3 linked regions of the Homo sapiens genome follow. The protein of the gene in region 1 interacts with the protein of each later gene in a pairwise test. Each region holds a gene or a part of one and is shown in the gene's direction. Other genes may lie near its edges.

The links. Proteins that work in one complex are often made in the same cells at the same time.
Region 2: the proteins of APOL6 (region 1) and CCN3 interact in binary tests that used the Homo sapiens proteins (3 or more experiments, as listed by UniProt).
Region 3: the proteins of APOL6 (region 1) and LAMTOR3 interact in binary tests that used the Homo sapiens proteins (3 or more experiments, as listed by UniProt).

Annotation. Positions count from the first base shown.
Region 1 is NC_000022.11:35,650,087-35,658,660, forward strand, and holds part of APOL6 (apolipoprotein L6), read left to right. Parts: intron 1-3,517; exon of another isoform or gene 3,518-3,634; intron 3,635-6,292; 5' UTR 6,293-6,339; coding exon 6,340-6,389; intron 6,390-8,528; coding exon 8,529-8,574. UniProt on the Homo sapiens protein: May affect the movement of lipids in the cytoplasm or allow the binding of lipids to organelles.
Region 2 is NC_000008.11:119,418,642-119,425,704, forward strand, and holds the end of CCN3 (CCN family member 3 precursor), read left to right. Parts: intron 1-489; coding exon 490-704; intron 705-4,194; coding exon 4,195-4,491; 3' UTR 4,492-5,793; downstream 5,794-7,063. UniProt on the Homo sapiens protein: Immediate-early protein playing a role in various cellular processes including proliferation, adhesion, migration, differentiation and survival. Acts by binding to integrins or membrane receptors such as NOTCH1.
Region 3 is NC_000004.12:99,883,658-99,892,231, reverse strand, and holds part of LAMTOR3 (ragulator complex protein LAMTOR3), read left to right. Parts: intron 1-197; coding exon 198-232; intron 233-4,877; coding exon 4,878-4,936; intron 4,937-6,556; coding exon 6,557-6,690; intron 6,691-8,106; coding exon 8,107-8,170; intron 8,171-8,574. UniProt on the Homo sapiens protein: As part of the Ragulator complex it is involved in amino acid sensing and activation of mTORC1, a signaling complex promoting cell growth in response to growth factors, energy levels, and amino acids.

The DNA of each region.
Region 1 (8,574 bases):
ACCTCTGTAAAATGGGCATCATCTTAGCACCGATCTCACTGGGTCACTGTGTAAAGCAGGTAGATGTATGTCTGGTGAAAGTAAACTCTTAAAGGTGCCAAGCCCCCTAAACCAAACCTAGCTTCACATACCAAAGAGGGGAGAAGGTTTTTATCTTTGAAGCATTCATTCTTTTTCATAGACTACCCCAAAGAAATAACCAAACATGTAGACAGACGTCTATATAAGGATTTTAACCAAAAATTATAAATACAAAATTTTAAAATAACTGAAAACAACCCAAAGGTTCAACAGTGAGAGAGTTATTGAATGTGTAATGATACATTCGTAAAATGAAATGCGACATGGCTTCTATGTATCGCCTGGGGAACTACTAAGATACAATGTTAGGTGACAAGAATTCACACAAACTACATGAACAGCATGCATTTCCATATGGTGAGCGTAAGGTGGATTTTATAATTTATTTCTAAATTTTCAACCTTAAACTTGTATTCATGGCTATAAGTGAATGAATGAATGAATGGCTATAAATGAATGGCTATAAAAATTTGTGTCCTGGGCTGGGCATGGTGGCTCATGCCTGTAATCCCAGCACTTTGGGAGCCCGAGGTGGGTGGATCACCTGAGGTCAGGAGTTCAAGACCAGCCTGGCCAACCTTGTGAAACCCCATCTCTACTAAAAATACAAAAATTAGCCGGGTGTGTTAGTACGTGCCTGTAATCCCAGCTACTTGGTAGGCTGAAGCAGGAGAATCGCTTGAATCTGGGAGGTGGAGGTTGCAGTGAGCCAAGATCATGCCATTGTACTCCAGCCCGGGCAACAAGAGCAAAATTCAGTCTCAAAAAAAAAAAAAAATTTTTTTAAAAATAAAGAATTTGTGTCCCTTCAGAGTGTGTGAGGGAGGATGTTTTTTTCTAACTTTTTAGAAGTGGAAGGGAAGAGGATGAGAGAAGGGAGGATGAGCTGAGGGAGAAGCTATATCTAGGAAACAGCATTTCTGCCGTAAGCGCTGGACCAAGTACCAAATGTAGAGAAGAGATGCAAAGGAATGTATTGGCTTCCCTAGGGCTGCTGTCAGAAAGCACCACAAACCAGGTGGCTTCAAACAACAGACATTTAGTGTCTCACAGTTCTGGAGGCTGGAAGTCAAAAATCCCAGTGCCAGTAGGGCGCACTTCTGCTGCAGGCTCCAGGGAGACCATCTGTGCCTTTTGCAGCCTCGGTGGCTTCTGACAGCACGACTCTAATTTCTGCCTCTGTCTGCGTGCAGCCTTCTTTGCTGTGTCTCTCTCTGTCACCTCCTCTTCTTATAATGACATCAGTGATGGATTTCAGGGCCACCCTGAATCCAGGATAATTTCACCCGGAGAAATGTATACATGTGCCATGTTGGTGTGCTGCACCCATTAACTCATCATTTAACATTAGGTATAACTCCTAATGCTATCCCTCCCCACTCCCCCCACCCCACAACAGGCCCCGGTGTGTGACGTTCCCCTTCCTGTGTCCATGTGTTCTCATTGTTCAATTCCCACCTAGGAGTGAGAACATGCGGTGTTTGGTTTTTTGTCCTTGCGATAGTTTGCTGAGAATGATGGTTTCCAGCTTCATCCATGTCCCTACAAAGGACACGAACTCATCCTTTTTTATGGCTGCATAGTATTCCATGGTGTATATGTGCCACATTTTCTTAATCCAGTCTAGCATTGTTGGACATTTGGCTTGGTTCCAAGTCTTTGCTATTGTGAATAGTGCCGCAATAAACATATGTGTGCATGTGTTTTTATAGAAGCATGTTTTATAATCCTTTGAGTATATACCCAGTAATGGGATGGCTGGGTCAAATGGTATTTCTAGTTCTAGATCCCTGAGGAATCGCCACACTGACTTCCACAATGGTTGAGCTAGTTTACAGTCCAACCAACAGTGTAAAAGTGTTCCTATTTCTCCACATCCTCTCCAGCACCTGTTGTTTGCTGACTTTTTAATGATCGCCATTCTAACTGGTGTGAGATGGTATCTCATTGTGGTTTTGATTTGCATTTCTCTGATGGCCAGTGATGATGAGCATTTTTTCATGTGTCTTTTGGCTGCATAAATGTCTTGTTTTGAGAAGTGTCTGTTCATATCCTTCGCCCACTTTTTGATGGAGTTGTTTGTTTTTTTCTTGTAAATTTGTTTGAGTTCATGTAGATTCTGGATATTAGCCCTTTGTCAGATGAGTAGATTGCAAAAATTTTCTCCCATTCTGTAGGTTGCCTGTTCGCTCTGATGGTAGTTTCTTTTGCTGTGCAGAAACTCTTTAGTTTAATGAGATCCCTTTGTCAATTTTGGCTTTTGTTGCCGTTGCTTTTGGTGTTTTAGACATGAAGTCCTTGCCCATGCCTATGTCCTGAATGATATTGCCTAGGTTTTCTTCTAGGGTTTTTATGGTTTTAGGTCTAACATTTAAGTCTTTAATCCATCTTGAATTAATTTTTGTATAAGGTGTAAGGAAGGGATCCAGTTTCAGCTTTCTGCGTGTGGCTAGCCAGTTTTCCCAGCACCATTTATTAAACAGGGAATCATTTCCCCATTTCTTGTTTTTGTCAGGTTTGTCAAAGATCAGATAGTTGTAGATATGCGGCATTATTTCTGAGGGCTCTGTTCTGTTCCATTGGTCTATATCTCTGTTTTGGTACCAGTACCATGCTGTTTTGGTTACTGTAGCCTTGTAGTATAGTTTGAAGTCAGGTAGCGTGATGTCTCCAGCTTTGTTCTTTTGGCTTAGGATTGACTTGGCAATGTGGGCTCTTTTTTGGTTCCATATGAACTTTAAAGTAGTTTTTTCCAATTCTGTGAAGAAAGTCATTGGTAGCTTGATGGGGATGGCATTGAATCTATAAATTACCTTGGGCAGTATGGCCATTTTCATGATATTGATTCTTCCTACCCATGAGCATGGAATGTTCTTCCATTTGTTTGTATCCTCTTTTGTTTCATTGAGCAGTGGTTTGTAGTTCTCCTTGAAGAAGTCCTTCACATCCCTTGTAAGTTGGATTCCTAGGTATTTTATTCTCTTTGAAGCAATTGTGAATGGGAGTTCACTCATGATTTGGCTCTCTGTTTGTCTGTTATTGGTGTGTAAGAATGCTTGTGATTTTTGCACATTGATTTTGTATCCCGAGACTTTGCTGAAGTTGCCTATCAGCTTAAGGAGATTTTGGGCTGAGACAATGGGGTTTTCTAGATATACAATCATGTCATCTGCAAACAGGGACAATTTGACTTCCTCTTTTCCTAATTGAATGCCCTTTATTTCTTTCTCCTGCCTGATTGCCCTGGCAAGAACTTCCAACGCTATGTTGAATAGGAGTGGTGAGAGAGGGCATCCCTGTCTTGTGCCAGTTTTCAAAGGGAATGCTTCCAGTTTTTGCCCATTCAGTATGATATTGGCTGTGGGTTTGTCATAGATAGCTCTTATTATTTTGAGATACGTGGCAAGGACCTTCTTGCTGTGTTATCCCATGACAGAAGGCAGAAGGCAGAAGGGCAAGAGGGCGTGTGCGAGAGAGGTGAAGGAAGGAGGCTGAACTCTACTACTACCCTCAATACTCACACCAATTTACCTTCTTCTGGTCACCAAAATATGTGAGTTTTTTTCCCTACACCAAGCAATTCTCCACTTCTTTATGAGAACAAACTTGGCATCCTACAGTTTAACTCAATTCTGACACTATCTCCTTGGAGATACTATCAGATCCCCCAGGTTAAGGGCTCAGTCCCATAAGACTGCCCCTACTTCAGACACCAGTTGTAAGTGGTGGGTCCCCAGGTTGCCCACAACTTTTGTCCAACTTGGTGACACATGGAAGGTTTCCACAACTCCCTCCTCAGTTTCAATAATTTGCTAGAACAGCTTGCAAAACTCAGGGAAACACTTATTTACAATGACTAGTTTATTATAAAGGATCCAACTCAAGAATGGCCAGACGGAATTGATGCACAGGGCAAGATATGGGGGAAGAGACATGGAGTTCCCATGCCCTCTCTGGGCACACCACCCTCCAGGTACCTCCATGTGTTCACCAACCCAGAAGCTCTCTGAACCCTGTCCTTTTGGGTTTCTATGGAGGCTTCCTTACACAGGCATGATGGATTAAAGAAACTATGGGCCATTTGTGGTTAACTCAATCTCCCGTCTCTCTCCTCTCCTGGAACTCAAGGGGTAGGGCTGAATATTCCAACCCTCAAATCACATGGTTGTTTCCCCAGACAAGCAGCCCCCCATCCTTGGAGGCTTTCTAAAGTCACCTCATTAACATAAACTCGGGTGTGGCTAAAAGGGGTCGGTTATGGTTAAGAAAAGATGCTCTTTTCACCTTTACTGCTCTCATCGCTCAGGAAATTCCAAGGGTTTTAAGAGCCCTGTGCCAGAAATGGGGATAAGAACTCTCTCTCTCTCTCTCTCTATATATATATATATGTATATATACACACACACACATACACACACATATATATACACACGTATATGTAATTATATATCTATATATAATTATAAATCACAATATCACAACATATTATGTTCTTGGGAATACAATTTGTACAAAGGGGCCTTGTAAATTACTGCTTTGTTTGGTGAAAATGATCCTTTAATCATTACAGTCTATGTGGTCATAATTGTGAGAGAACAGAATAAGCTACCCCCAGATATGCCTCTTTGGCATAGGGATTATTGAGGCGAAGGCAATTAAGAAGCAGCAGATGCAGGAAGGTTCTCTGTCCTCTCTCTATTTGCCTAAAAGCAAGATCTAAATTTACAAAGGTCTTTCTATCAAGGAGAATAAAGGTTAACCACTGAGAACTTTAGACCCTTATAGGCCTGGAGATGGTACCAGAGGAAGCTGCGTAACAAAACTTACTGACTAGTTTCTTTCTATCCTTCATTTCCTATTTATTTGTCTACCCACAATTTGGTGGCCCTCAAGATGCAAAGTCTTTTTTCTTCATCTTGTCCCTTCTCTAAAATTGTATAGTTCTTTGTTGAAGGTGGCTATATAAGCAGGGAGTTCCAAGCCACTCCTTTGAGAATTATTTATTCCCTGGTGTCTCCTACATACACTTAAGAGGTACATATTAATCCACTCCTGTTTGTTTTTCTCTTATGAATCTGTCTTGGGTTACAAGGATCCTAGCTGAGAACTTAGAAGGGCAGAGGGAAAATTATTTTTTCCTCTCTTATAATATCCATCTAAGGAATCACTTACCCAGGTCAAGATGGAGAAAAGGAGATTTCCTTGTACTTCCTCCTCCCAGTCAATAATCGCACTACCCGAGAAGAAACCTCGATTCTGACTTCTACAACCAATTCATTTGCATATTATTGAGTTTCATATAAATGGAGCCATTTGTTTGATTTCTTTCACTCAATAATAATGTCTGTGAAATTATTCCATGTTGTTTGGGTATCAGTAGTTTTCAAAATTGTTATTGCTATGTAATATTTAACTATATAAAAAAACTATAATTTGTTTGTTTATTCTTCTGTTGATTGATGTATTTGAGTTGTTACCAGCCCTTGGCTATGTATGGGAGGAAAAGTAATTTTTTTCTCAACCCTCATAAGTTCTTAGCTGGAACAGACTCCTGTAACCCAAGACACATTAACGAGAGAAAACCAAGCAGAAGCGTATTAACATGTCTATTTCATATGGACATGGGAGAGATCCAGGGATTAAATAATTCTCAAAGAGGTAGCTTTGAATTCCAGCTTCAATACATCTCCAACAATGAACAGTACATTTTTAGAGAAGTAGCAAGACAATGGAAAAGGGTTTTGAGTCTCCAGCAGGAGCAACTTGTGGGAAAGTAAGTCAATGTCATCTTTGGTGATCAAACTTTATCCTTCTTGTTAGTGAGGAGACAAGGGACAGCTTTACCTTTGTCAATTTATGTCTTGCTTTTAGGCAAATAGAGGGAGGGTGGAGAACTTTTCTTGTACCCACTTCTTCTCAATTACATTTGGCTCAAAATAATCCTTATGCCAAAGTGGCATATTTTGGGATGGTGTATACTGCTACCCTCCAATATAGAGGTAAAAATGTATTGAACTGACTATTTCACTGTATGCATTTATTGTATGTAAGCTACACCTCAACATACAATTTTCAAATAATAGTTTGCAAATATTTAGTATGCTATGTGGTTGTTATTTTGATAGTACATAATCCAAAATCCCTCCACACCTGAATTTCATAAGGTTTCATCATATGTGCAGTAACGTTGTTTTTCTACATTCCTGACCAGAAAATCATTTGACTCCTGGGGACACAGATTTGCTGCCACAGAGGCTGATGGACAACCAGGCGGAGAGAGAAAGTGAGGCTGGTGTTGGTTTGCAAAGGTAATCCAAAGGGTGTAGTCCCCAGGGAGAGGGCTGATTCTGTTGAAATGCTGCAGGCATCCTCACGATAAGGAATACATGTGCTCTGATAGGATTAGCTGTTAAGTGGGCCTTATCTTACCGCTGGTCTCCATTATGCATATGAAAATCTGTTCCCCTAGGGAAAAAAATACTTCATGGAGCTAAAGTAAATATTTTGGAGAGCAAGTCAAGATTAAGTCAGGCGCATGGCTTTGGGCAATAGGACTCCAAAGACAAAAATTGCTCCACTCTGGGGCCTCATCTCTGCAACTGTCTTGAAGACAGGAACTCCATTTCTTCAGCTCATATATCACCAAGGAAGGAAGCCATTTGGTGTTAACAAATTAATGAATTTAAGCCCAGTTGTCTGTAAATCAGCAGACGTAGCACCACCGGCCCCCTGCACAATGTGTGCAAGTAACAAATATTTGCTGAGTGAATTAGACGAACTCTATGTGTAATATGTCATGGAACTGGACTGAAATGTTATCCAATGCCAGTAGACATCACCAGCTGATACAGGATTCACTGGAGCAGAGGTGTTCACATGTGAGACGCTTGGTTTAATTAAGAAACACATGAAGTCAAGCTTCTGTTAGTTATCAACCATGCTAAAACCAAAAACTTTACAGTTCATACACAGTGGCGTTGTTGATCTTTGCAGCTACATATCTATTTGCTGTTTCTTTTTGTCTAGCATACCTTGAGGAAACACAGAGATCAGGGTGGGCTAACCTATGGCATCTTTTATGTCTGGGGTTCTTTGTCAGGGCCACCCCGCTTGCCTTCATCCCACCCCTTCCCCATTGCAAGCCCTGGTGACCTTCTGCTCTGTTAACTGATTTACACCTGTGGATTAATAGATAATTGTGCCTAAATTTATTAATTCATTAACACTTAAAACATATGCTCGATGGTATATTTAGTTTCTAATCTTTCCCACTGAGGAATTGTGTGCGTGTGTGTGTGGAAAGAGAGATTTAAAGATAAATACATTTATGGACATACATATACTTCAATGAGGAGGCCCTGACATCAACTGACAGGTGAGAGGAAAGGCAGAAAGCACCAAGTTTAGGACTCAGAGCCCACCCAATGCTCCATCTTTACCTTGCATGTTCCTTTGGGAGTGTCCTCTTTTCTCTCTGGGCTTGAGGCCCCCCACTGAATCATAAAGGAGGTGGCCCAGATCCTCTCCAGGCCTCCCTCCAGCTCTGATGTTCTTCTTTGGGCCAGGGCATCTGTTATCACCAGGCCTCCTCGGCTCACCCTGAAGGAAATGCACAAATGGCACCTTGCATGAGAAAATGCCCCAAGCAGCAGGCTTTGCTCTCACCCTGATGCAGCTCTGCCTTGAAGGTCAAAGCCAACTGGCCTGGCAAAGATCCCTTCGTACTTCATCCTGTAAAATGTTGGAGGAAGAGGGGCCTAGGTCTCTTTGTCCCAAACTTCTTCCATGAAGGACTAATCCCATCTGCTTGAAGGGTCAAGTAAAGCTGACCAAGAGCAAGGAGAGCATTCAGGACATGAATAATAATTTATCTCAACTCTCAATGTGCAACTCCTGATAGAAGCAAAGACACACCCCAGAGTAACCAGATTCGAGGTCATTAGAGTGGAGGATGTATGATGCAATATGGCCCCCTCCACCCTCCTACTCACTTCTACACATCTGGGACGCTCATCCCCTGCCCACCACCTTGTCTTCTCTTTCTCCTACTTTTCCCAGAACTCTCCCGCCATTGTTCCCAAGTTCTTTATCTTGAGTGGGGTTTTAACATTTCCCCACTGCCCCTCCTCTGCAGCAGTGCTGTGCTTTCTCTGAACAAGGCTGAAAACATACCTCAGGACTTAATTTTCCTTCCCCATTCCTTGACCAAGGCTGGGGTGATTCACATTTGTCCTTCCACATGCCCCTCTTATGTGTTTCTTTTTTCCATGGAACCAGTAGTTTTCAGCGAAGGCTGAACTACTCTACAATGCTCTAGGACTTTTCAGGGGATTTTGTAGGGAGGTACAGGGAGGATTCGAAGCTGAGAGTGGCAAGAATATCCAAGAGCCACATGGGTTTTCCCATCTGGGAAGCTGAAGCAAAATCTTTATTTCATTTCTCCTCAGGGATGAGGATGACGCTCCTCTGTGTGAAGACGTGGAGCTACAAGAC
Region 2 (7,063 bases), on another chromosome or scaffold:
TTTTAAATTCTCTTTCTTTTCTGGATTCTGTACACTACCTAGGCCGTCTCATGATTAACCTCCTTAAAGAAGGCTACTCATCCCTGCACAGGTGTCACTGAAAAGTGTCATCTTTCTAGATGCTGTAGTAAGGCTCAGATGGCACTTCAGGACCTTTTTTTATTCTTATTTTTGTTTTCTCTTATCAATGAAATAGTTTAAATAAAAAATCTCAAGAGACAATAGAGGATTATTTTAGAAGCCATTAATTAGCCAGATTACTTATATTAGCAGTATCCGGAATTGTATACTATTTCTGAGGGCAGACATTATCAGCCATGCCAGAAATAAATAAATAGATAAATAAATTCAGTTCTGTGTCCTGGGAGCATGGGTGTTTAGTAGGTACAGAGTCGAATGAGACCCAGTTTCTAATAATGGCTGAAAAGGACCACTTTCCAATCCTCACATTGTACCTAATATGGCTGTCTTTATTTATACATCCCATAGCTTACAGGCCAGAAGCCACCCTAGGAGTAGAAGTCTCTGACTCAAGTGTCAACTGCATTGAACAGACCACAGAGTGGACAGCATGCTCCAAGAGCTGTGGTATGGGGTTCTCCACCCGGGTCACCAATAGGAACCGTCAATGTGAGATGCTGAAACAGACTCGGCTCTGCATGGTGCGGCCCTGTGAACAAGAGCCAGAGCAGCCAACAGATAAGGTAGGAGCCTGGAGGAAACCTCCCATCCTGAAGGTAATGGCCTTGTGTCCTTGGAGCCTGGGCTTCAGAAAGTCACTGTGTCACTCTGTGACGGAGAGAGCAGCTATAGCGGGGAGTTAACCCCAGAGAAAAGGCAGTGGGGTTCTTGAAGCCAGCCTATCTTCTTTTTTCTCTTTAACATATTGAAATACTCTAAGCAACTCACAGTACACCCTCAGGTAAAGAGGGAGAGGGACCGGAAAACTATAATGCTTTTCCCAATAGAGAATGGTCTAGCAAATCCCATTCCATTCCTGGAGAAAACTGGCTACAGTTGTCAAGCACAGCTGATTCTAAAGAGGTCACTTCTGACCTCAGTTCTCTTTATTCGTCAGGTTCTGTATGTATGGGTAGAGGCCATGTGGGTCTTACCTCTCAGTCCTCAGCTTTCTACCTGGCAGATATTGTGTGCGTGATAAACAACTGTTGATAAATAAGCGAGTGACTGTCTGGGAATTATTGTTGGTATTTTTAAAAACCTAGTGGAAATAATACATTTGCCAGCATAAAGCAATATGGGCCAAATAAAACAGCACATATCTTTTTATTTTTTTTTTGTTGGAATTACATCAACTCAGTATGTTAACACTGAATGTGAGACGTGCAGTTCAGAAGCTCTGATTGGTTGCTGATGACATCACAGGCCTTGTTACCAGAGCCCTATATCAGAAAAATGCAATACCCAATTTGAACCATTATATGGATCCTTATACAAACCTAAGACTAAAATAAAACAGCCCTTAGCAATTCAAGATTTACATATCTTGACACTGAAGCAATATCATCTAATGCGTAAGAGGACAACTGTGGAGCCAGACAGCTTGGCTTCAAATTCTGTCTTTCCACATGAACCAGCTATGTAATCTTGGGCAATTTTCTTAACCTCTCAGCCTCAATTCCTTCTCCCACATAATGGGGCGGCTGAAAGTACCTACCTTAACTTGTCACGATGATTACATAGAATGAATTTGCAAAATGCTGGGTATAGATTAAGTACTCTGTTAACAGTAGCCACCATTACTTATGATTTCTATTTACTGGTAAAATAAGAGTCCCTAGTGGTTGCATTAGTTATATGGCTGCTTAGCTATATAATTTTTGGAAGTCCATCCTAACTTTACTTTTCTTCCACCAGTTTAGAAAGAACACCTAGAAACACCTTATCCCTAAAATTATATCCTAGGAGATGCACTTCCCCACGCTCAGAGGAATTCAAACATATATCTAACATAGTCATATAGGTTCACCCACATAAGCAGTCTCACATACAAACACATACACACACATAGGAATGTTGTTATCCTGTACCATTTTGTGGGTGTTGACAAGAATACACGCTAAATATTAAATTGAAAAAGTAAGAAGAAGTCCTTAAATATTTTCAATAGCACAGCAACTTCTTTATTAAACAAGATGTTTCCATTTAATGCCTCTAAGATGTGGCTTTTTCTATTGTGTCATTTTGCAAAATTTGTATTTTTTCTTGTAACTTGAATCTTCTTTAATATTTGGATATGTTATTTTAAAGATGGTTATTTATAGTATACATATTTTATAAAAATTGTACTAGTATAACAATCATTACTTCCTTGTCTCCAAGAGATTCTTAAATCTAAGACAGTGGTTCTTTTTTTTTTTTTTTTTTTTTTTTTGAGACGGAGTCTTGCTCTGTCACCCAAGCTGGAGTGCAGTGGCACAATCTTGGCTCACCGCAAGCTCCGCCTCCCGGGTTCACGCTATTCTCCTGCCTCAGCCTCCTCAGTAGCTGGGATTACAGACGCCCTCCACCATTTTTTTGTATTTTTTAGTAGAGACGGGGTTTCACCATGTTAGCCAGGATGATCTTGATCTCCTGACCTTGTGATCTGCCCGCCTCGGCCTCCCAAAGTGCTGGGATTACCGGCCTGAGCCACCGCGCCCGGCCGACAGTGGTTCTTAAAGGGTGGTCCCCAAACCAGCAGCATCATCTAAGAAGTTGTTAAAATGTAAATTTGTGGTGTGGGTCCCACATCGGATGTACTGAATCCAAAACTCAGGGTGTGAGGTCTGACAGCTTGTTTTAAGAAATCCTCTAGATGATTTTGATGTGCACTGAAGTTTGAGAGCCACTGATTTAAGATAATTCCAAGTCTAATCACCCCACAAGCTGTGGGTCATGCCTATGAAGGTGAACAGTGGATAACTGTAGGAAATTAGTAGATTAAGAAATATAAGTAAGAAATAAAATATAGCCAATTCTTTGCTGAATTATCAACATTGGGCCTCTTCATTTATCATTACTAATACAATCTTGAAAACATTCTCCACTTTATTTGCCTCCATGCAAATTCCATGTCTTGGAATTTCCTGGGTTCATCACGTAATAGAAAGAATGGGCTTTGTACAGACAAATTCAAATATTAGATGTTTTCTGATCCCTTTAGGTCTTTGAGACTCAGTTTCTTCATCTGTAAAACTTGGGCAATTGTTCTTTCTATGAATGATTATTTCTTGTATGAATGAACACTGTTAATAAGGTTGAGTTAATGTTTGAAGAGTATTTGAAACATAAAATAATGCCAGATTTATAAACATTCTTTTTATAACATGTTGTATTAGTCCATTTTCAAACTGCTATGAAGAACTACCCAAGACTGAGTAATTTATAAAGAAAAGATGTGTAATTGCCTTACAGTTACACATGGCTGGGGAAACTTCAGGAAACTTACAATCATGGCAGTAGGTGAAGGGGAAACAAAACACATCTTACATGGCAGCAGGACAGAGAGAGACAGAGAGAGAGAGAGAAAGAGAGAGAGAAAGGCAGAAAGAGAGAGAGAGAGACAGTGAGAGGGGAAGTGCCACACTTTTAAACCATCAGATCTTGTGAGAACTCACTATCACGAGAACAGCAAGGGAAAAATCTGCCCCCATGATCTAATTACCTCCCACCAGGCCCCTCCTCTGACACGTGGTGATTACAATATGAGAAGAGATTTGGGTATGAACACAGAGAACCAAACTGTATCACGTGTAAAAATCCATTTGGCTAAAAATGACACCAAAGCATGTTACAGTGTCTTAAAAGATAGGTTTTGTTATGCTTTCACCTGCATGCTCATCTCCTCAATGTCAAAAGACCATTATGTACAATTAGGCAAGGTGTTTACATTCCAGGAAGAAAGGAAAATGAATACAGGAACAATAAAGAATTGTACCTACTCAAAGGGCAAAGAATTTCCCAGATTCTCTTGGCCAGAACTTTGCCACAAGGTTATCCCAAGTCCCACATAGTCTGTGGAAGCAAATACTTTTAGCTGACTACATTGCTCAAGCAAAATTAATGTTCTGATAGCAAAGAAGAAAGACCAATAGATATTGGGTGGGCAACTAGCAGGTAATTCCATACTCTAAAATTGTCCCTCAGGGGAATGGTAGCCATTCAATACATCACTTCTTTTTTCTTTCTTAGAAAGGAAAAAAGTGTCTCCGCACCAAGAAGTCACTCAAAGCCATCCACCTGCAGTTCAAGAACTGCACCAGCCTGCACACCTACAAGCCCAGGTTCTGTGGGGTCTGCAGTGATGGCCGCTGCTGCACTCCCCACAATACCAAAACCATCCAGGCAGAGTTTCAGTGCTCCCCAGGGCAAATAGTCAAGAAGCCAGTGATGGTCATTGGGACCTGCACCTGTCACACCAACTGTCCTAAGAACAATGAGGCCTTCCTCCAGGAGCTGGAGCTGAAGACTACCAGAGGGAAAATGTAACCTGTCACTCAAGAAGCACACCTACAGAGCACCTGTAGCTGCTGCGCCACCCACCATCAAAGGAATATAAGAAAAGTAATGAAGAATCACGATTTCATCCTTGAATCCTATGTATTTTCCTAATGTGATCATATGAGGACCTTTATATCTGTCTTTTATTTAACAAAAAATGTAATTAACTGTAAACTTGGAATCAAGGTAAGCTCAGGATATGGCTTAGGAATGACTTACTTTCCTGTGGTTTTATTACAAATGCAAATTTCTATAAATTTAAGAAAACAAGTATATAATTTACTTTGTAGACTGTTTCACATTGCACTCATCATATTTTGTTGTGCACTAGTGCAATTCCAAGAAAATATCACTGTAATGAGTCAGTGAAGTCTAGAATCATACTTAACATTTCATTGTACAAGTATTACAACCATATATTGAGGTTCATTGGGAAGATTCTCTATTGGCTCCCTTTTTGGGTAAACCAGCTCTGAACTTCCAAGCTCCAAATCCAAGGAAACATGCAGCTCTTCAACATGACATCCAGAGATGACTATTACTTTTCTGTTTAGTTTTACACTAGGAAACGTGTTGTATCTACAGTAATGAAATGTTTACTAAGTGGACTGGTGTCATAAACTTTCTCCATTTAAGACACATTGACTCCTTTCCAATAGAAAGAAACTAAACAGAAAACTCCCAATACAAAGATGACTGGTCCCTCATAGCCCTCAGACATTTATATATTGGAAGCTGCTGAGGCCCCCAAGTTTTTTAATTAAGCAGAAACAGCATATTAGCAGGGATTCTCTCATCTAACTGATGAGTAAACTGAGGCCCAAAGCACTTGCTTACATCCTCTGATAGCTGTTTCAAATGTGCATTTTGTGGAATTTTGAGAAAAATAGAGCAAAATCAACATGACTGGTGGTGAGAGACCACACATTTTATGAGAGTTTGGAATTATTGTAGACATGCCCAAAACTTATCCTTGGGCCATAATTATGAAAACTCATGATCAAGATATATGTGTATACATACATGTATCTGGTTTGTCAGGCTACAAGGTAGGCTGCAAAATTAAATCTAGACATTCTTTTAATGCCACCACACGTGTTCCGCTTCTCTCTTTTAAAGTATTTATAAAAATATAAATTGTACATTTTGTAAAATATTATGTTTGATTTCTCTACTTGTCATATCACTAAATAAACACGATTTTATTGCTGCGTGACTCTGTATTACTTTGGTGCATAAAAGTTGAACATTGTTGTTTACTGAAAATAAAATTAAAATTTATGAATTAAATGAGACATCAATCAATAGCATCTATTGAAAGCAAAATGAGTATTTCTGGATGAGCTTACAACTTCTTATCAGAAGGGAAACAAAAGACAACTCAGTATTCCTGAGTTAGATGTTCCTCACCATCACAGCCTCAACTAGCCTCCACACTACTTACCCAGACCCTCATCTCAAGCCCTGATCTTTTTTTTTCTGGACAGCCCGCTAGACACCTCTGTATATTGAAATTTAAACTTGTTATCTGACCAAACAAAATTCAGCTCTGTGGCTTCCTCATCTAATCAAAGGGCATCCCATCCTCCCAATTGCACGGCTTAAATGGCCAGCACTTTCTTGATCAGTATTATCTTGCCAAGTACCCAGAAAAGCATATTTCCATTGATCATGGGGAATTGCGTGACAAACTGGGCTGCACACTGGGCAGAGTCACAGTTAATAGAAGTTTTGTGTTTGGAAGCTTCTTGCTGATGCAGTGTGGCTCTCAAGTTCTATAATTTGTAAGGAAAAATCTTTTCAAAAGAGTTTTACTATTACCAACTTCACTTCCTGGGTCTGCCCCCTCCTTTCTGCACCTCTCTTTAGCTAGTTTCTGTTTGTCCTTTAAGATGGATTAGAAAGCAACTTTGCCTTCTAGGAGTTTATTCACACGAAATTATCAAGGACAGCAAACATTTATTGCACAACAGCATTGTGCTGAGAGCTGTACTTGCATTATATTGTTTAATTGGCACAATAGTCCTATGAAGTAGGCATTCTTCATGTACCCATGTTATGGATGAGGAAACCAAAAAAAAAAAAATGTTAAAAGAAACTGGTGGATCTAGAATTCAAACCAAAGTCCTTTTACTTTCTACTTGCTAACATATGGATCCTGGCAAAGATGATCTATCTTCAGACTGTTCTACCATGTGTTGTTCATAAAGGCAAAAAAAAAAATAGAAACAAAGATTCCACAGTGTAGATCTGGCTACATTAATTATAGTATACCCGTTAGGATGAAAAACAAAGCAATCTTCAAACTGAGAATATAAGAAAAGATATCCGAAAATATACCACAGAATGGCATGAAACTAGGAAAAGAGTGATTTGGTTTTGTTCAAAAGTATCTATGAACATGAATCAAAAGAGACCTAGGACAGAACGTGTAACAAAATCTGATTAGTGATTTAGACTAACGTCAGACTAGTCTCATTTTTGTTCTTTTCTGTCATTTCTTTACCAACTTTTTTTTAAAACTGTGAATATACTACCTTTATCACCAGAAAAACAAAAA
Region 3 (8,574 bases), on another chromosome or scaffold:
AGCTTAGCGAAAAAAGGTTGGTTAACTTACTCCAAGTTGCGTGACTAGTAAACATCCAAATCAGACAGAGAAAGATAAAACACAGCAAGAAAGGTTATGAATGATAACTGAAGTTCCTTAAAATTTGGATAGGACAGGATCTAGAAAACAGTGGAAGGCCTATTATTACAACATTATTTTTTAATGCTCTCTTTCAGGACCTAAAGCGATTCTTGTATAAAAAGTTACCAAGGTAAGAAATTTTTAATTTGTTATTGAATAAATTCTATATGCCATATGTTAATTTTATGAAGCATTTTGTCTGTATTTTCCATGTTGTGAAGTATCTCTGAGATTTCCTTTAATATGAATATTTTTTGCCAGCCTCACGTCCTCTGGAAAATTTTCGTCACAACCGCTTTCCTCATTTATGTCAATAAGTTTGCCTTCACTGAGTTCTCTGTGTATCTAGAGCGATAGTGTCAGCATTCCCTTGGTCATCTGTTTCTTCTATAATTCTTTACTTTCTATTTGAAATTCAGCATTTCTATTTGAAATTTCAGCATTATTACTTTTCATTTCTTTGCTGTATTTCGTCTTTGTTGGCCAGTTTCCTCTTTTTATTATCTCTTTTTCTAAATGTCACATACTTTATCATTGGGAGACAAGGAGGTACAAAACTACATGCTTTGCTATCTCTGCATGAGCTGCATAACAGATGCACAGTGACCAACCATCAACATACTTTGAAAGAAATGATGTGGCTGGTTACTGATGACAGTGTGCATCTGTTAATTACATAATTATTTATGTAGTGATTTGTGGACTAAAGAGTTAGAAAAGTTTATACTTTACGTAGTTATTGAGGTATTATGCCATGCTAACTAAAATTTGACCTGTGCTCTTCTGCAGGGAGTGGTATTACTTAACCATAGTAACTAAAATGTGCATATTGGAACTATGCAAAATGAGGGCTTTCTGTGTTTTTCTGTAGTTACCTTAGCGTAATGAAAGGGCGCTCAAATTGGGACGGAGAGATACCCCACTACGCTGGTGATATGATGAAATAGTTAATAGTACATAGTTAATTCACTTAGAAGTCTTAGTGATTTACAGTCCTCTTTTGAGTGTTAGCATCTCTTATTGAAGAAACAGCAAAATTGCATTCAATGTTCTTAAGTTATAAACCGACCAGAAAGATACTCATTAGTCACCTGGAGATCTAATAAAGCAATAATTGATTCTAATTACATCATCTGTGATTATAAGCAATAAAAATGTTTCAGACAATGGGGATCTCATTTTAACTATTAAGTGTGCTCTCAAAATCATAATAGCGTGTGACACTGGATATGATGAAGCTGTCTGTGTAAAGGAATTAGAGAATAATACCAAAAGTATTTATTATATTACTGAGTAGTTCTAATGTTGATCAAAAATAGTTGGAAAGTAAATGCTTGCTTCTTCTTTGAATTTAGATGTCTCTTATCTTTTAACAAAAGGGGAAATATCAGGTTGTTGTGCTTATCCAAGAAATAAATTCAGTTAAAGGATATTTGTTAAAAGCTTTATGAAAATCTTTCATAATGGCAGGAAAGGTATTAGTACTGTCAGTTTTTTTTTTAATAATGAAAAAAAGCCAGTTCAACTCATTATATCATTTATTGAAAATAGGCTTATTGCATCCCAGAACAGTAATAATGAAGAAATAATAATGTTTTGAACATTTATGAAGAATAGTAGAATATACGCTTTGATTTGTTGCTAGATGTATGGGTTTGGATGCAGGCATCCTGCTTCAGAGCCATGGATTCATGCTTTTAACTGTTGTACCTCAGTGCCTCTCAGTAACAAAGTCAGCCAGCTACGGATACTAATGGAATGTGTGTTTTTGTGCGTTTTTTGAATTCTCTGCAAAATATCGTTCTTGTATTTGCAATTTAAAATCTGGTTGTGACCCAAAGCAGTCTCAGGCTTTAATAATCCCACTTTGTATGTTTTAAAACAACCAAATATTTCATAATTATGTGTATAAAACTAAATCCGATGTCTTTGATTAGTAATGCAACATTTGTTTTTAGAAAAAAATGGTTGTTTTAGTAAGCTTAAGGTTTAGATTTCTTCAGAATATTTCACAAAATTTAATTCATTTCTTCTAAAAGTGTAGTATCTCTTAATGAGCCAGTTATTTTTAATTATTAGTAAATTCTATTTATATTACTCTTTGCGCATTGTATGTAGAATTGAAAACAGCTTTTATATTTGTGACCTGATTTCTAAAATTATATACTTAAGAGTGTAAGTAATTTTTCTACTTTCTTGATTCATTTCTCTGTGAAGTCCATCAAAAAGAAAGTCCTTTTATTTTCTTTGGAGCATTAGTTGTATTTAAAGTAATTTCCATGGAAATTTAAAAAAAGAAGCTACCTGTGGTGGCACTAATTTTTCTAAACATTTTTGTGGTCCTCTTTTTACCTGCTTTTTAATTTATTTTGGGGGTAAGTAGTACATTCACAGAGTTCAGATTCAAGACTTAACTGAAGAACATAGAGTGAGAAGCTGCCCATCCTTCCTCTCCAGCCACATGCACAGTTTCCCCTCAAAGAGGCACCCACCATTACCTACAGAGATATTTTATGTACCTATGAGCAGACATGTATATACACGTATTTATACACACAACATACACATATGCCTGCATATTTTGGTACATAATTTATTGCTTCTTCTATACACTGTTCTAAACTGTGTATTTTTTCACTTAAGAATGTAACTTTGAGAGTAATCTTTCCTGGTACATAGAGAACTTCCTCTTTCTCATGGCTGCAGAGTATTCCAGAGTATTCCTTTGTAGGTGTATATCATAACTTACCTTGTCCTTCTTGATGGACAGTTGGATTTGTAATGCTTTACTGTTTCAAATGATGTTGCTTTTGGTAACTGCACAAAATAATTGGCTTATGTACAAATATCTGTAGTATATGTTTTATATAACCTAGTTTTTAACTTAGAAGAATATATTTATTTTATGTATTAATCTTTTTGTTGTTGTTGTTGAGACAGACTCTCGTTCTGTCACCCAGGCTGGGAGTGCAGTGGCGCAATCTTGGCTCACTGCAACCCAGGTTCAATCGATTCTTATGCCTCAGTCTCCCAAGTAGCTGGGATTACAGACAAGCACCACCACACCCAGCTAATTTTTGTGTTTTTGGCTGAGACGGGGTTTCATCATGTTGGCCAGGCTGGTCTCAAACTCCTGACCTCAGGTGATCTGCCCACCTTGGCCTCCCAAATTGCTGGGATTACAGGCGTCAGCCACTGTGCCCGGCCTATGTTATGTATTAATCTTAGAGATATATTTTAATCTATAAATAAGTTTAGGATTGAATGATTAGGAAATCATGCCAATAATAGGATAAAAATAGTATAAAAGTCATTTATAAAGTTATTTTATTCTTATTTTTAATGTAAGGAAGACAAATGATTTTGTTTGTAACATTTTCCATTCATATTTAATAACACTTTTCTGACTTAAAAGTTTTTGACAATGGGATTTTAAAAAATTTAATGTCAGTATTTAAACATTAGGTTAATATAAGTATTTCTTATTCCTTAGTTAATACATTAAAGTTAACACAAAGAATAGATCATTCCGGGTTGCTGTAGGGACATTGAACATATCTCTGAGTTGTAGTTTATAGATACCATAAGATAGTTACAGGACTATAAGATTTATGTTAACAATGAAAGGGTTTTGCATAAATGTTGAAAGTCGAGGAGTGTCACCTTATATTTTTTAACACAGTATATTTGTGCTCTACCATATGTTTCTTAATTGCTAATTTCCCAGGGATTCTCACTGATAACTTAGTACTTTAGTGATAAATTATGTCATTGTCAGTGTGCACAATTGACACCACTGGTATTAGTTAATAAGTGATATTTTTGAATTATGTGCCAGCCTACACTTTACATGCCTTGTATTATTAAATTTCACAGTATCTAAGTAAGTACAGTTATTCCCATTTTCAAATTGTTAATCTGAGGCTTGTAAAGGTTTCATAACTAGCCCAAGATAGCATAAATAATAAGTGGCAGAGCCTGGACTGGAACCCAGATCTTTCTAACTTTAGAGCTATAGCTTGACCGTTCTGCTTACTACTTCTTACGTAAGCATGGCTGAAAGGATTACTGCATAGCCTGCATTCCTTTTGCCCTGTTTCTTCAGCCAGGAACAGTTTTTCCACGTCTTTTCACTTAGTGCCATAACGTCTCAGCTGATGTATTACTGCCTCCAGGAAAGCCTTCTCTGGCCCACTGTCTGTCTGCATCAGCCTCCTCTTTTCTAGGTTCTCATATCCCTATGAACTTTTTAACAACACTTGCCACCAGTTTTAGTTTTACGTTTGTTATTGTGAGATTATTTTATTGGTAACACATTCACTTTTTACATTGGAAGCCATGTGAAGGCAATGATTGTGCTTATTTCTGTTTTTCATAGTATCAAAGTATTAAGTGCCACAAATACTGGCCGCTTAATATTTGCATGAATGAAAAAGGAAAAAGGCTGTTTTTTGTCACTATAGCCCCTGCTGATAATCTTTCATGCTTTTGTGTACCATGGACTGATCATTCATTAGTAGTTTTAATGGAGAGTTATCTATGTCTTAGATTCTTATTAATAAACTGCATGAACTTGTAAATATTATAAACATTTCTATAATACACATTGATTCAATTTCTGGGAGAATTTTGGGGTCTGTGGTTTTTCAGAAAATACATGAGAATTATTATGTCTTTGAGGTGCATAGTTTGAGAAAATGAAATATTTTATATTTTAACTTTTTAAAATTTTATATTTTAACTTTTTTTATATTTTAACTATTTTCTTTTTCTAGTGTTGAAGGGCTCCATGCCATTGTTGTGTCAGATAGAGATGGAGTACCTGTTATTAAAGGTAAAACTGAACATTTAAATGCAAATGTCTTCTTTGCTTTTGACTAAAAATGTGTGTAATTTACATCTGAGTAGTACAGCAGGCAAACATAAAATTCATTTTAGTAAATTTGGGAGATGGTCTTAGTATTGGGGAAAGTGTTTGCTTTTGTATGTTGAAGGTTGAATTTGAATCTACAATGTATTATATATCACATGTATCATATTAACATCTAGAGTTTAAGCATGGATTTATCACAGACCCATTTCCCATTAAAGACATTTACAGTGTAACGTAAACCATTAGTAAATCTAAGTGATGAGAGTGAGCATGTATTCAGCTAGATATACACACAGACACCCCTACTATATATATATGTGTGTGTGTATATATATACATACCACACACACATTTTATCAAATTGCTAGTTGTTTTAGGATAATACCCATGTATTTGGATCATAAGTAAACATGATGTCACAGAGAGTCAGTATGGATTCAGACAATTTTTACTATTTCTATATTATGGTATTATGAGAATGGATGTTCCTAGTTTTATTGGGACACTATAGTGGCTTTATCAAAGATTAAAGATTGGATAATGTTCTGTATATTTTGTTTACAATTTTCCACCTGGAGTTGTCATATATATCAGATAATTTTAGACTTTAGAAATGAAAGGAGGTTTAGAAGTCAACTAATGTAGTTCTTTCATTTTATAAGTGAAGGTGATAAAGTGCAAAGACACTTGGACTTCTTAGCAGTTTTAATGGAGAGTTAGCTATGTCTTAGATTCTTATTAATAAACTGCATGAATTTGTAAAGATTATAAACATTTCTGTAATACACATTGATTCCATTTCTGGGAGAATTTTGGCAAACACATTATAAGAACAAAGGAGGTCCTGTGGTTTATAATCTTCGGACATTGCCGTCCAAAGTCGGACATGAGTCAGTAACAAAACAGTAATAGAACCCATAATCTCCTGATGTGTGGTCCAGTGTGCTTTCTAACCCACTATAAAATGGCTGTTGAATGGCTGTGGACAGATTGCTTGCCTTCTCTTAATTCCGTAATGAGGGATTTGAACAAAATAATCTCAGATTTTCCAGCTCTAATATTCTTCATGAGGATCTCTGTGTTAAAGCCTTGAGCCCTGCACTCATTAATATAACAAACTCCATGCAAACCTTTTAATGAGTGAGAGAAACATGAAACAGGTAACCAGCTGCAGATTGTTAATATCTATGAGAGATACTGCTGCTGTGGGTTTTATAAGAGCAGAAGTTTTGTAACTTTTTTCATTAGTTTATTCTAGCCTAGTCCTCAGATAACCAGTTAAATGTACTTGATTAATCTGTTTTAAGTTAGATATCAAGAAAATGTAAACATTTAGTTTTCTTTTTAAAATTTAAAAAAATTGTGAGAGTCAGCATTTTTTCTCTTACTTGTGATCAGTGAACTTTTGATTGAGCAGTTTTTCCTGATTAGTGATGAGACCCCATTAGTGATATGATTTTCAATATTGTGAAACATAACCTTTGTGTTCAATTTTAAAAAGAGGTTTATGAAAAAAAAGGGCTGTAAATCTCTCTACCATATCCTCTGCATAATTTTTATTTAAATCACTTATTTTTCTAGTGGCAAATGACAATGCTCCAGAGCATGCTTTGCGACCTGGTTTCTTATCCACTTTTGCCCTTGCAACAGACCAAGGAAGCAAACTTGGACTTTCCAAAAATAAAAGTATCATCTGTTACTATAACACCTACCAGGTAAGTTCATAATTATAAAATGATTTGCTGATTTCAGTTGTCATTTTTGTGCCTTTTATATATATAAAATAGTTTGTGTTATAGTTCTCAATTTTAGTTTTGAAGAGGATGAAATTGTAAAATTTTAGCCTTCAAATTGGTTGTATTAAAATGTAGTAATTTTCTTCACATTTCATACCAGGAAATAATTACTATGGAAAAGTAATTAAGTGATTTAATAAAGTACATGTTATCCTAAAAAGAGTATGTCAGGTCACTGTTACCTCCAGTAGATGGTGCCGTTAGCTAAACAACTGTGATTTCTCAGCTGACACACTTTTTTTGTTGTAGTAACAGATAAAAAAAACTTTCCTTGAAAGTTTATTAAATTTGCTCTTGCTGCTAATTCCTTCATTTTTTGGAAATATATATATGTAATAAATGAGATTATTATTTGTGGGAAAGAAGTTAGTTTTTAGTTTTTGCATGTCTCTTGATCTCAAGCTACATTTTCTTAAGACTAAATTAATTCCTTGTGCTTTAGAGCGATGTTTCCTAATCAATTGATGTAAGTTACTCTTTTTTTTTTTTTCTTCCAAGACAGAGTCTGGCTCTGTTGCCCCATGCTGGAGTGCAGTGGCATGATCTCAGCTCACTGCAGCCTCCGCCTCTCAGGTTCAAGTGATTCTCACGCCTCAGCCTCCCAAGTAGCTGGGATTACAGGCATGTGCCACCAGGCCTGGCTAATTTTTGTATTTTTGGTAGAGACGGACTTTCACCATGTTGGCCAGGCTGGTCTTGAACTCTTGGCCTCAAGTGATCCATCCACCTCAGCCTCCCAGAGTGCTGGGATTACAGATGTGAGCCACCGTGCCAGGCCCATCTTTTATTTTAAAAGTTATATATTTTAATGTGTATTAAGTAAAAGATAACCAAACCATCTGACCTTTAATTTCATCAATAAGGATTAGGTTTAAACTAAGTTTTCTTTTTTTTTGAAGGTAGTTGATTTAAAGTTACTTTAAATTTAATTTAAATTACAGTAATACACAAGAACCAGAAAATATCATGAAGATAAAACTACTTGAATAACTGAGAAATACTGCATTTATCCATTTAATTATCAACTATTTATTAAGTCCTTACAATGTAATTGATATTCTGTTGGGCTTTAGAGATAAAAAGATGAAGATATGGTTTCACCTTAAAAACTTTCCAGGCCAAATGGTATTAATGTCTCTAAGAGATCATCACTAATTCTGTTTTATGGAAATATTCACTGAAATATAAAGTTCCTTTCTGTTTCATAATATAATACCATAATGTTGGGCTAAAACATTGATGATTTTAAAGTTTTTGAAAGATTAAGACATTTCAGTTTAGTTATACTACCTTTTCATAATGCAACATATTATTTGGCTCTTATTTTCTTTTTAGGTGGTTCAATTTAATCGTTTACCTTTGGTGGTGAGTTTCATAGCCAGCAGCAGTGCCAATACAGGTGTGTTTAATGACCTTAAATATCACTTTAATCCTTAATTTTAAAAAATTAATTTAATTACCATACCTTAATTTAAGAGGAATAGTAGATTTAGAGCCAAAAATCTTGAACTTGTGGCCCAGTTTCACTGTCTTTTTTCCATGTCTTGGGAAAAGTGATTTCTCTGAATCCTGGTTTCCATATCTGTATAATGGAGATAATATATGCTTTCTCCATCTTACAATGTTATTTTCTAGTTCAAATGAGACAGTGTATGGGTAAGTGATTTTTTTTTTTTTTTTTTGGAGACAGGAAAATTAAATGTTATCTGAGTGCTACATCTTGCTCCCATTACAGCAGTTTAAGAAAACAAGGTGAAGATAACCCAACAAAACGCATTAAAATGATCGATGAGTTACAGACCA